Linked DNA regions of Homo sapiens: region 2 is linked to region 1. The links come from fine-mapping of genetic effects on gene expression. Tissue or cell type: aorta. Region 1 holds a variant in brackets; the other region holds the start of a gene. All regions are shown on one strand. Distances are between the middles of the regions.

Evidence for each region. PIP is the estimated chance that this variant, and not a neighbour inherited with it, causes the effect. A credible set is the group of variants that fine-mapping cannot tell apart.
Region 2: EFCC1 starts here. The variant in region 1 is the best candidate, but not a certain one, in a credible set for the expression of EFCC1 in aorta (GTEx, PIP 0.53).

The regions. Positions count from the first base shown.
Region 1 is chr3:128,569,975-128,575,339 of GRCh38, reverse strand. LINC01565 (long intergenic non-protein coding RNA 1565) reads left to right here. Exons shown (of 3, transcript NR_125802.1): 2 at 1-74; 3 at 1,037-3,340. Among named protein-coding and RNA genes, the nearest start is that of LINC01565, 3.4 kb to the left of the region's middle. The variant G/A (reference allele first, on the strand shown) is at 2,580.
Region 2 is chr3:128,998,833-129,004,197 of GRCh38, reverse strand. It overlaps EFCC1 (EF-hand and coiled-coil domain containing 1), which reads right to left and starts at 2,894. Exons shown (of 8, transcript NM_001377500.1): 1 at 1,874-2,894; 2 at 121-404. The coding sequence starts at 2,569. It also overlaps a transcript of CFAP92 not described here.

The DNA.
Region 1 (5,365 bases):
TGGCTCACTGAAACCTCTGCCTCCCGGTTCAAGCAATTCTCCTGCCTCAGCCTCCTGAGTAGCTGGGATTACAGGTATGCGCCTCCATGCCCAGCTAATTTTTGTATTTTTAGTAGAGATGGGGTTTCACCATGTTGGCCAGGCGGGTCTTGAACTACTGACCTCACGATCTGCTCACCTCAGTCTCCTAAAGTGCTGGGATTACAGGCATGAGCCACTGCGCCTGGCCTCTTGTCTTTTAATTTTATTTTGAGTTGGGGTCTCACTCTGCCACTCCGATTGGAGTGCAGTGGTGCTATCATAGCTCACTGCAGCCTCAACCTCCTGGGCTAAAGCAATCCTCCCACCTCAGCCTCCTGAGTAGCTGGGACTACAGGCATGCACTGCCATTCCTGGTTAGGTTTTAAACATTTTTGTAGAGATGGGGTCTTGCTACGTTGCCTGGGCTGGTCTGAAACTCCTGGGCTCAAGTGATCCTCCCACCTCGGCGTCCCAAATTGCTGGGATTACAGGCATGAGCCCCACACCCACCTCAATGTCTTTTAAAGTCATTAAAAGACAATTATTTTGTCTTTTTTTTTTTGAGACAGAGTCTCTCTCTGTCGCCCAGGCTGGAGTGCAGTGGCACGATCTCGGCTCACTGCAAGCTCCACCTCCCGGGTTCACGCCATTCTCCTGCCTCAGCCTCCTGAGTAGCTGGGACTACAGGCACCCGCCACCACAGCCGGCTAATTTTGTTTTTGTATTTTTAGTAGAGATGGGGTTTCACCGTGTTAGCCAGGATGTTCTCGATCTCCTGACCTCATGATCCGCCCGCCTTGGCCTCCCAAAGTGCTGGGATTACAGGCGTGATCCACTGCACCCGGCCTCATTTTGTCTTTTAATGAATAATGGACTAGCACAGCCTTAGAGAAGGAAAGAGCAGAGGTTCTATGTCCAGTCAGTGGGGAACTGGGAGATTCATTCCGAAAGGCTTTGAGGAGGAACCGGGCCCGGGTCACTCTTTGAAAGGGTGGCTCTCCCATTTTTCCTGCAGAAAATCTGAGCAGTGGGTGAGGCCGAGGGACTGCCCAGAGCCCCAGAGCACGGCAGTGGGCAAGCAGTCGTCCCTGTCCTGGGCATCCCTGTGGCCATGGAGCTCCTGGGTGAGCAGCTGCTCTGAGACAAGTCTGGTGAAGAATACAGCAGGACTCCTGAACATTCTTCCTTAAATGCTTATCTGTGGAAACCAGAACTGCCCTTGGCGCGTGGCTCGTGGACGTGCTGGGTGGCTGGGTGGGGCGGGTGCACGGGTGGAGCCTCAGCTCTGTTTCTTTCTCTGGGTAGTGTCCCCACTGCTGGGCTTCTCCCGCTCTCAGCTCTCTGGGGAGGTCCCCTGTGAAGGGCCTGTCTTTCCTGTCCCCTCCCTCGGATCATTAATGAACCACTCTCTCTCTCTTTTTCCTTTTCAGTGATTGGGCTGTCGGAATCAAAGAGGCCCTCCGGTGACTCAGGCGTTTCCCATTGCCCTATTCTAGCATCCTCTACTCTTAGCACTGAGAGTTTTTCACGTCCTATTTGGAACTGATAGGAAACCCTTTCATTGTTTCGCTACATGGATATTAGCACTGATGAAGGAAGCGCTCCATCAGATAGTGGTCCGCTGCAGTGAGCTGGTTTCCAGCACGAGCCTGCCTAGACTCAGCGTCTCCCGCCTCCAGGGACCCCCAGACTCTCAGCCCCTAGGCACCCTGGGCCAGGGTGGTTGGAAGCTTCTAGGCATTGTGGGGTCTCTGGCACCAGAGACACTCGGGGGTCTGGGGACCGAGTTTGGGCCCTGTACCCACCCACTACCATTTGACATGGTGAGAGAGAGAGAGAGAGATGACGAGCTCAGGCAGGGATGGCTTCTCCAGTGCCCACAATGTGCCAGGACTCTGCTGTGCCACTGTGGGCCTTTCCTCACCCCTCCCTCCCAGACATCAAGCTCTGGTTTCCAGCTGTGTTCCTTGAAGCCGTCGGGCTCTCTGGTGACAGCCACAGAGCCTCTGAGCAACTTTGCTTTCAGCTATTTTCCATGACCCAGTCCTGGGTAAGGCTTCATTTGAATGAAGGGTTCTGCTGCTAAAAAAAAAAAAAAAGTCGGAAAAACCACCTGATCACAACTTTCTAAGGCAGCTATTTTGTTTTGCAATGAGATATTTGCAGTGGTTTCACTAAAGCCTGATCTTCCCACTGGACTGTCGGCCTGTGAGGATGAGGACGTGTCTATCACAGTCAGTATGCCCTGAATGAATGGGTGTCACCCTCCTCCCCCTAGTGAGAGATAAGGACCTCAGGCTCAGAGAGGTTATGTGGTTTTCTCAAAGCCACACAGCAAGATTTGGCAGGTGAGCCTTACTTCTCTTCCTGGGCTAGCCTGCGGTCAGGGGCAAGGCTTTTGGATGATAAGAGTGAGGTGCAGTCAGCTCTAGATTGGGGGTGGCAGAGGGAAAAGGAGGGGGGGTTCCCAAAGCACCATTCTGCTTTCTGTGAGAAGGGATTTCCCCTCAACAACTTCTGTCCCATTTTTCAGAGCTAAAGTGACAAGCCACATCCAC[G/A]TCCCTGGTTAAAGGTGCTCCCCCTGCAGGAAACACATGTGCACTTGGGATGGAGCCCTCTGTGCGGGAGCGGCTTGCTCACCTCTCAGCCAGTGCCAGCTGGGTGGGTCTCTCCCAGCTCTCGAATCCTAACTGCAGCCACCATTTATTCAGCACCTGTTATGCACCAGGCACTTTATGTATCTTATTGCTAACCCTCAAAACAAGCCCTTCCCAACATAAGCGCTTTTGTGCCAAACCCATAGGTCTGAAACTGAGACCCAGAGAGGCTGAATGACATGCTCACAGTCACACAGCAGGCAGTGGCAGGCAGTAGTGAAGTCGGCTCTATGGATTGTATACCTGGGCTCCTCCAGGCCTCTGCGCTGCCCGGCCTGATACCCTAGCAGGTTGGGTATTCAGAGGTGCCTGGGGAGCTTGTTAAAAGTGTAGATTCCAGGCCTCCTTACCCTTAGAGACTGTGACTCAGTATCCGGGGCAGGGCCCAGGCATCTTCATTTTGACAGGCCGTCCCGGTGGCTGCCATGCGCAGGCAGGTTTTAGGAACATCATGGGTGGATGATTCCTGGTCTCCCCAGCCCTCTTGACCTGGCCACAGAGAGCTGCCTTTCCAGCGAGGTCAGCCGAGATGACGCTGCCGGGAGAGCAGTCTTCTCTGTAGTCCCCGGAGGGGACTCCTCGGAGGAAGGATGAGTCTGAGGGTTCCGGTTGTCTTGGCCTGAGACCACCCAAGGTCTTTTAACAGAAAAAAACTTTACCCATTCCCAGTGTTGATTTCATACCTTTATTTTATATATCTATTTTTATTGTGGTGAAATACATATAACAATAAAATTGCTGGGCGTGGTGGCTCACGCCTGTAATCCCAGCACTTTGGGAGGCCGAGGCGGGCGGATCACGAGGTCAGGAGATCCAGACAATCCTGGCCAACATGGTGAAACCCTGTCTCTACTAAAAATACAAAAAAATAGCCGGGTGTGGCTGCACACACCTGTAGTCCCAGCTACTCAGGAGGCTGAGGCAGGAGAATCGGTTGAACCTGGGAGGTGGAGGCAGCAGTGAGCCGAGATCGCACCACTGCATTCGAGCCTGGGCGAAAAAGTGAGACTCCATCTCAAACAAAACAAAACAAAACAAAACAAAACAAAACAATAAAATTTACCACCATAACCATTTTAAAGTATAGAGTTCATTGGCATGAGATACAATCATATTGCTGTGCAACACTCACCACTGTTCATCTCCAGAATGTTTTTCATTGTCCCAAACTGAAATTCTGCACCCATTAAACACTAACTCCCCATTCTCCCTCCTCCAGCCCCCGGCAACCACCTTCTACTTCTCTGTGTCTGTGAATGTGACTGCTGGGGATCTTATATGAATAGAATCATGCAGGACTTGACTTTGTGTGCCTGGCTTATTTCACTCAGCATCATGTCCTCCAGGTTCACCGATGTGGCAGCAGAGCTCAGAACCTCCTTCCTTTTTAAGGCTGTGTAATAGTCCATTGTGGGACAGGCTGCATTCATTTATCCATTCATCTGTAGATGGACACTTGAGTTTCTCCCACCTTTTGGCTATTGTGACTTTGGCTTATTTTAACATTATATAAAATGAGGCCAGGCATGGTAGCTCCTACCTGTAATCCCAGCACTTTGGGAGGCTGAGGTGGGAGGATTGCTTGAGCCTAGGAGGTTGAGGCTGCAGTAAGCTGAGACCAAGCCATTGCACTCCAGCCTGGGCCACAGAGCAAGACTCTGTCTCTAAAAAGTCAGCCAACCAATCAATCAATCGTTCAATCAATCTGTGCTCACCTAAAGCTAAACATTGGTACTGTCTACTCCTACAACAAGATGAAAATGAAAGATAAGTTAAATCCAACCAAAATTACAAGATGAATAAAATTCAAGTGAATGGTATTAGTCTATGCCAATGAATAATGCTGTCTTGCTTGAAACAGGAATGTGGTGCTGATGGGCTCAGTGCAGCTTCCGTGGAATCTGGCACATTCTGTAACCACTGTGACAACTCCCTTTTCCTCCTCCTTTTCTCTGTTTGAACTCCTGCAAAGCCTCAGTGTCTTAAAACACATCCAAGTGCCATTGCCCTTCTCTTGTCATGAATGCGTCCTTTCTATCTGACATCCACCTTTCTTTCCTTAGTATCCTGTGGCCATTAAAGTCGCACCGAATGGCTCTCAGGCCATGACCAAACTGAACATTGGGACTGGAATTTTGCAGGTGCAAATAATCATGGAAAATGACTTCCTAAAGTTAAAAACTCTTGGTGAACTAGCAGTCTGGAGACCATGCCCATTGGCCCCAGCTGCAGAGGCGGTGGTCCAACCTCCTCTTCAGGTTGCTTCCACCTGCCTGTGTAGTTCTCTGCTGTCTGAAGTTACTCTCTGGTCGCCCTGGTTATCAGGAGGCTTCAAGGCTGTGCTGGCTGACTGCAGATAGCATCTCAATCTATTTCCAAATCCGAGTCCCCACGAGGCACCTGTCGGGTTCTTCTCCACTTCTATTTATTTATTTATTTAAAGACAGGGTCTTGATCTGCCCCTAGGCTGGAGTGTAGTGGTGTAGTCATGGCTTGCTGCAGCCTCAACTTCCTGAGCTCAAGCCATCCTTCCGCCTCGGCCTCCCGAGTCGCTGGAGGCCACAGGTGTGCACCACCATGCCTATTTATTTACTTATTTTTGTAGAGATGGGGTCTCACTTTGTTGCCTAGGCTGGCCAACTGCTGGCCTCAATAGATCCTCTCGCCTCAGCTCCCCAAAGTGTTGG
Region 2 (5,365 bases), 430 kb before region 1:
TAAACGCATGGAGAAACTGCGGAACACGAGAGCGCGTGGGAGGGGGATTGCACACCCGAAGTTTGGGAAAATGGGAGCCGAATTGGGGAACTTGGGCCCAGGGCACGCGCCCCCGCTCACCTGTAGCGTTGCAGCTCCGCCTCCAGCCGCCGCACCCAGCGCTGCAAGCCGGGCACCTGTTGCGCCAGCGCCTCCAGCTCTCGCACGCGGTGCAGGCTGCGCAGCACCACCTGCCGGGCCTCCTCCGCGCGCCGCCGCACCTCGGCCTGGCCACGGCGCAGCCGCCCAGCGCGGGCCTCCGCCGCAGCCAGGGCGCCCTGCGCCTGACGCAGCTCCCGCACCGCAGCCTCCGGCCCGCCGTGCCCCATCTCGTGGGTGCTCGCCTGGCTCTTCCAGAGTCCGACCTGCGGGGACAGGGCAGCAGGGGCAGGGGGTAAGTGCCCCAGCCAGATGCACCAGACGAACGCCCGCCACGACGGCGGCCCCATGCCTCTGCACCCAGAAGCGCTTGAGCACGTTTCTTGCGCCGTCTGCTTCCGGGTGCCAGGCCCTTAGGTCCGGTGCGTCCAAGCTCCTTTAACCCTCGCCACATCCCCAGGGAGGCCCAAGCTCTGATTCCTCCTCATCCCCCACCCCCCAACGTTTTTTCACTGAAGGAAACTGAGACACGACGCCTGTATTCTGTTCCCTCTATAGTACCAACCTCGCGACTCTTCTCGGCCTACTGTATTGGCGGCGTTCAGCCTGCCGGGTGGCGGTTCCTCATCTCCTAGACTCCCCCCAGTGGCATTTCCAGCCCTCCCCGTGCCTGCTCACTAGAGGCTTTTGAGGGTGGTTTCTATCTGTCTTTACTGGTGTGTTCCCAGAGCCTAAAACAAACCTGGCACATAGTAGGTGCTCAATAAATACCAAGCATGAGAGATGCCGGAAGACCGTTCAGGCGCATCCCATGGCTCCCAGTACGTTACTTGGGATTCCACATCAGAGGAGTAGTTTCCCGCCTCCACCCTGGCTTCCATGCACACTGACACTGAAAACCACACCTTGCCACTTCCCTGCACTCTGCAGTGTCCTGAGCTAAGGCGGGGTCATATAATGTCAGTTTCTTCCTGGCCTGTTGTCGCCTGGGGTAGGGGCTGTTCCTTTCCTCCTCTGACCCCTGCGGCCCAGCACTGCCCTTGGTGCTCGGCTGGCACAGTGCTTAAGTGTTTGTCGACGGCTCCCAGATGCTAAGGCTGGGTCCCTATCTCACCCCATGGTTTCTTCTCAATAGCCCAGAGCGGGTCTGGTTCCCGCAGGCACTTGGTGGCCCGTGAGTGCCTGATCCACAGTGTGAGCCACATTGTCTGTTTCTCACTTGTCTCTGTTTCTCCCACAGGGAGCCCCATAAGTCTTTGCTGATTGACAGAAGGAGCTGTCAGTCTACCCCAGGAGGCAGGGATATCCCTAAAGGTGAGGACAGGGCCTTCTTCACACTTCTGTCTCCTAAACCTCCCAGAAGCCTGGCAGGAAGGAGAGAGAAAGATGCTTGTTGAAAGGGAATATGTGAGACTACCCAGACAGGTGCAATTCCTAGGTTAAAGGGGCAAGACGCGATGATGTGGCGGTGGAGCAGAAAAGTGGGGTATGGTTGTTTGAGTGTGATTGGGGTTTTCAGGAATGGAATAGGTGGTAAGAATAGGGTTGGGGACTGGAGTGGAATGGGGAGGAACAGGGGCAAGATGCAAGTGTGCTGATGCGGAGTGGGATGGTGTGGGGCTGCCCTCTGTCTCCCCTTCCTCTGACTCTGTCCTGTCGGGCTCCGCAGCCAGCCAGCTTTTAGTTCGAGCCCTCTCCCGGGCGTTACCACCCTCCCTTCGTGGCCGGCGCGCACCTGCAGTGCTAGGCAGCGCGCATCACTGCTCTGCAGCGCGGCGCGCAGGTCCTCCACCAACTCGCGCAAGCTGCTATTCTCCTCCTCCAGCCGCGCAACGCGCTCACAGTCAGGACCGCTGTCGGGGCCAGGCGCGCAGGGCGGGCGGCGGCGGCGGCGCGGACGGCGCAGGCGGATCTGCGTCTCGATGTGCTCGCTGAGAGCGCCGCGGGGCAGCCGGGGCCCCGCACGGGTGCCGAAGTAGCCACAGAGGCGCGCGTGGAACTGGCGGAAGGTGAGCTCCGGCGGCTCGGCGCGCAGCGCCAGGCGCGCCTCTTCATCGGTATCTGAGTCCCCGTCCGTGGCCAACTCAGCGGCCGCATCCCCGGGGGTCACATCTCTGGAGTTCCCGTCACCTGCTGCCTGCCCGGCCGTGGTGGCCCCCTCCGCGCGCAGCCCCAGCACAGCGCAGAGCGCTCGGAAGTCGGCGCGGGGCAGACGGCCGGCGCCGCGGCAGTCCAGGTGGTGGAAGACCTCCTGCAGGTACTGGTCCAGGCCGGTGGCCAGCACCACGATCTCGTTCTCCACGCCGCGGTCCAGCCCGTAGTGGTGCGCCAGGGCGCTCAGCAGCCACTGCGTGCGCCGCGCAGGTCGCCGGTACGGGTCACCTCCCGCGCCCTCCATGCCGGCCTCCGCGCCCGTGCTGACCGGCTCCATCGCTGCGCCGCGCGCCTCGCTCCTCCGGTCCCTCCTCCGGTCCCTTCGCCCCGCCACTTCCAGGGGCGGCCCCAGAGTTTCTCGAAAGGAGGGGCTTAGCGGTCGCGGTCTGGTTGGAGCGGCGCCGGGGACCGTGTCCAGCAGCTGCGCTGGCCTCACAGTGCGTCTGGTTTACCCCAGTTGCTTTGGAGGGGCCTGGGGTAGGGGGTCCAGGAACCCCCGGGACCCCGGCAGCGCCACCAGTGCCCGGTCGGCGTCTGGGTCTGGCTTCTCCGCGTGACTCCCACGCTCTCCTCTCCTCACTCACGGGGCGTTCCTGGCGTCTGCGCTTTTCCTCCCACTCCCGGCCGTCCACTCTCAACTCCCTCCTCCCTCCGCCCCGCCCGCCTGGCGCGGAGAGTTCGCTCCGAGACCTGGGCGAGGGGTTGGCGCGGGATCCGAAGCCCAGGAGGGCCTTGGGGGTGGCGGCCTCGTCCGGTTGCTGGGGATGTGCCCCCACACCCAAGCGTCACTCTTCCCCCTCTTCCCGGAAGGCCTTTCGAGGGTTGCCTGGCAAGCCTGCTCTCGCCGCCCTGTAGCCGTAGGTGCGGAAAAGCCTCCCCTCCGCTTCAATTCAGCTACTGGGTTTCCGAACCCACTTCTTGTGCCACCATAGACCGTGCAAAGAGCCCCAAGTAGTAACTGGGAAAGAGAGGGAAACAGGCTTGGAGAGGCAAGGGGTCTAGGTTAGGGGCACCCCGCTGGTGAGAAGCCCATCTGAGACGAGCCCTGTGCTAACTGCTCTCTCCCGATCCCTGTTGGGGGTGGGGATAGGACTCTCGGGAAAGTGGTGTCTCCCGGCCCTGCCACCTTTGTGCCTGCCGGTGCTGACTTGGCAATGGGATCCGAGTTCCATCTCTTGAGCTGGGGTTAGGTTAACAGGTCGATGATTGGCTGATGTTTTTTTCTGGTGTTTTAGAACACATTTCTGGAAGATGAAGAAAAACCTGCTTCTCTGGTGAGTGCTAGACTGTGTTCCCTTTCTTTTTCACGAGAGGGGTGCAGTGATATTGTGATATTGTCCACCTGTTACCTGCACCGGGAACGGTTATCCAGCCACGGTACCCAGCCATGTTGGAGCAAGAGGCAGACTCTTCAGCTGTTCCTAGCTATGACAGAGACAGAATCTTGCCTTGTGGATAACTCTGTGAGTTTAAATGTAAAATCTTGCCGTTTGAAAAGCGATAGCATTCTGTCTCCTCTGCCACAGTATCCCAGAATCAGCACGTTGTCCATTTGGCAAATTCGTACTTGTTCTTGAAGGCTTTGCCCAGAGTACATATCTGCTGGGAAGGAGTTAGAGGCTTCTCCCCAAGCATTTTGGACATATTCTTTTAGGTTTGTTTTTAATTATAAAAGTAATGGCAATTTGACAAAGTTTTTACATCACGTCCACTTCTTGGCTTCTACCTTCGAAAGCCACTGTGCACAGGATGTTCACTGCATCATTGTTTATTACAGTGAGAAACTGGAGACAACCTGGTGTCCATCAAATCAGCTAGGACTCAGCAAACGAGGATGAGCGGACACAGCAAGCCACAAGCTGATTATGCACAACACTGATGCTTACATAACAAGAACAAAAACACACAAAACAATACTAAGTATTTTCTACTAGGACATGTGTATGTGAGTGCACAGAAGAAGATGGAGGGATTCATAAGTGGATTCAGTGGTTCTTTCTGCAGATGGGAGACACTGCAGTATTTCCCTTTTGTTAAGATGTTCTCATGTGTTTCTTTTTCTTGGCCGGTCGCGGTGGCTCACGCCTGTAATCCCACCACTTTGGGAGGCCGAGGCGGGTGGATTGCCTGAGGTCAAGAGTTCGAGAACAGCCTGGACAACATAGTGAACCACCCCCATCTCTACTAAAAATACCAAAAGTTAGCTGGGCGTGGTGGCAGGCGCCTGTAATCCCAGTTACTTGGGAGGCTGAGGCAGATGAATCGCTTGAACCTGGGAGGCGGAGGTTGCAGTAAGCTGAGATCCTGCCATTGCACTCCAGCCTGGGCGACAGAGCGAGACTCCGTCTCAAAAAAAAAAAAAAAAAAAAAAAAAGAACCTGATTTTATTTCATGTCAGCCCTAAGAGCTGGTAGCCCAGGCAAGAGTGCAACACCCTCCCCACCCCCCATCCCTGCAGCTGGTGAAGGAATCCTTTGAACAGTAGCTTTCCTGGGCCAGTCAATATTGAAAAGAAAGCTTTTAAATGTCTTGCTGGGAGCCGTTGCCGGCCTCCACTCCCCTACAGCTCAGGGAAGTAAGGGTTGATAATGGTTTGCTGTCAGGCCTGTCTGTCTGCCCTGCGGTGTTACCAGGCACCTCTGAAATAATTCTGGTTGCATCCACAAGGTTTTTGTTTAAGGTTCAAAGTGAGCAAACTCAGAGGTCTCCTTGCGTTCTTTTGTATGAGCTGGGGGGATGGGCGTGTGTCTGTGTGGGAGAGAGTCAGGGCTGTGGCAAAGAAATGATTTTCTGAAGTCAGTTCAGTATTGTTTGAGCCATTTCAAATAGTATATTGTTTAAAGTGTCTTTTAAAGGTCCGGGAAAATGCTAAAAAGCAAAAATCATCCACCATTCTGCCACCAAGAGAGGATCACTGTGTATTTCTGATGTATTTATTTCCAGACTTTTCTATGTATTTGGGCATGAAAGAACTTTTTGGAGTGATTGAAATACTCTATCTTCATGGTGTAGTGGTTGCATGACTGTGTACATCTGAATTTTACAGTGTGCAAATCGTAGCTCATTCAACTTG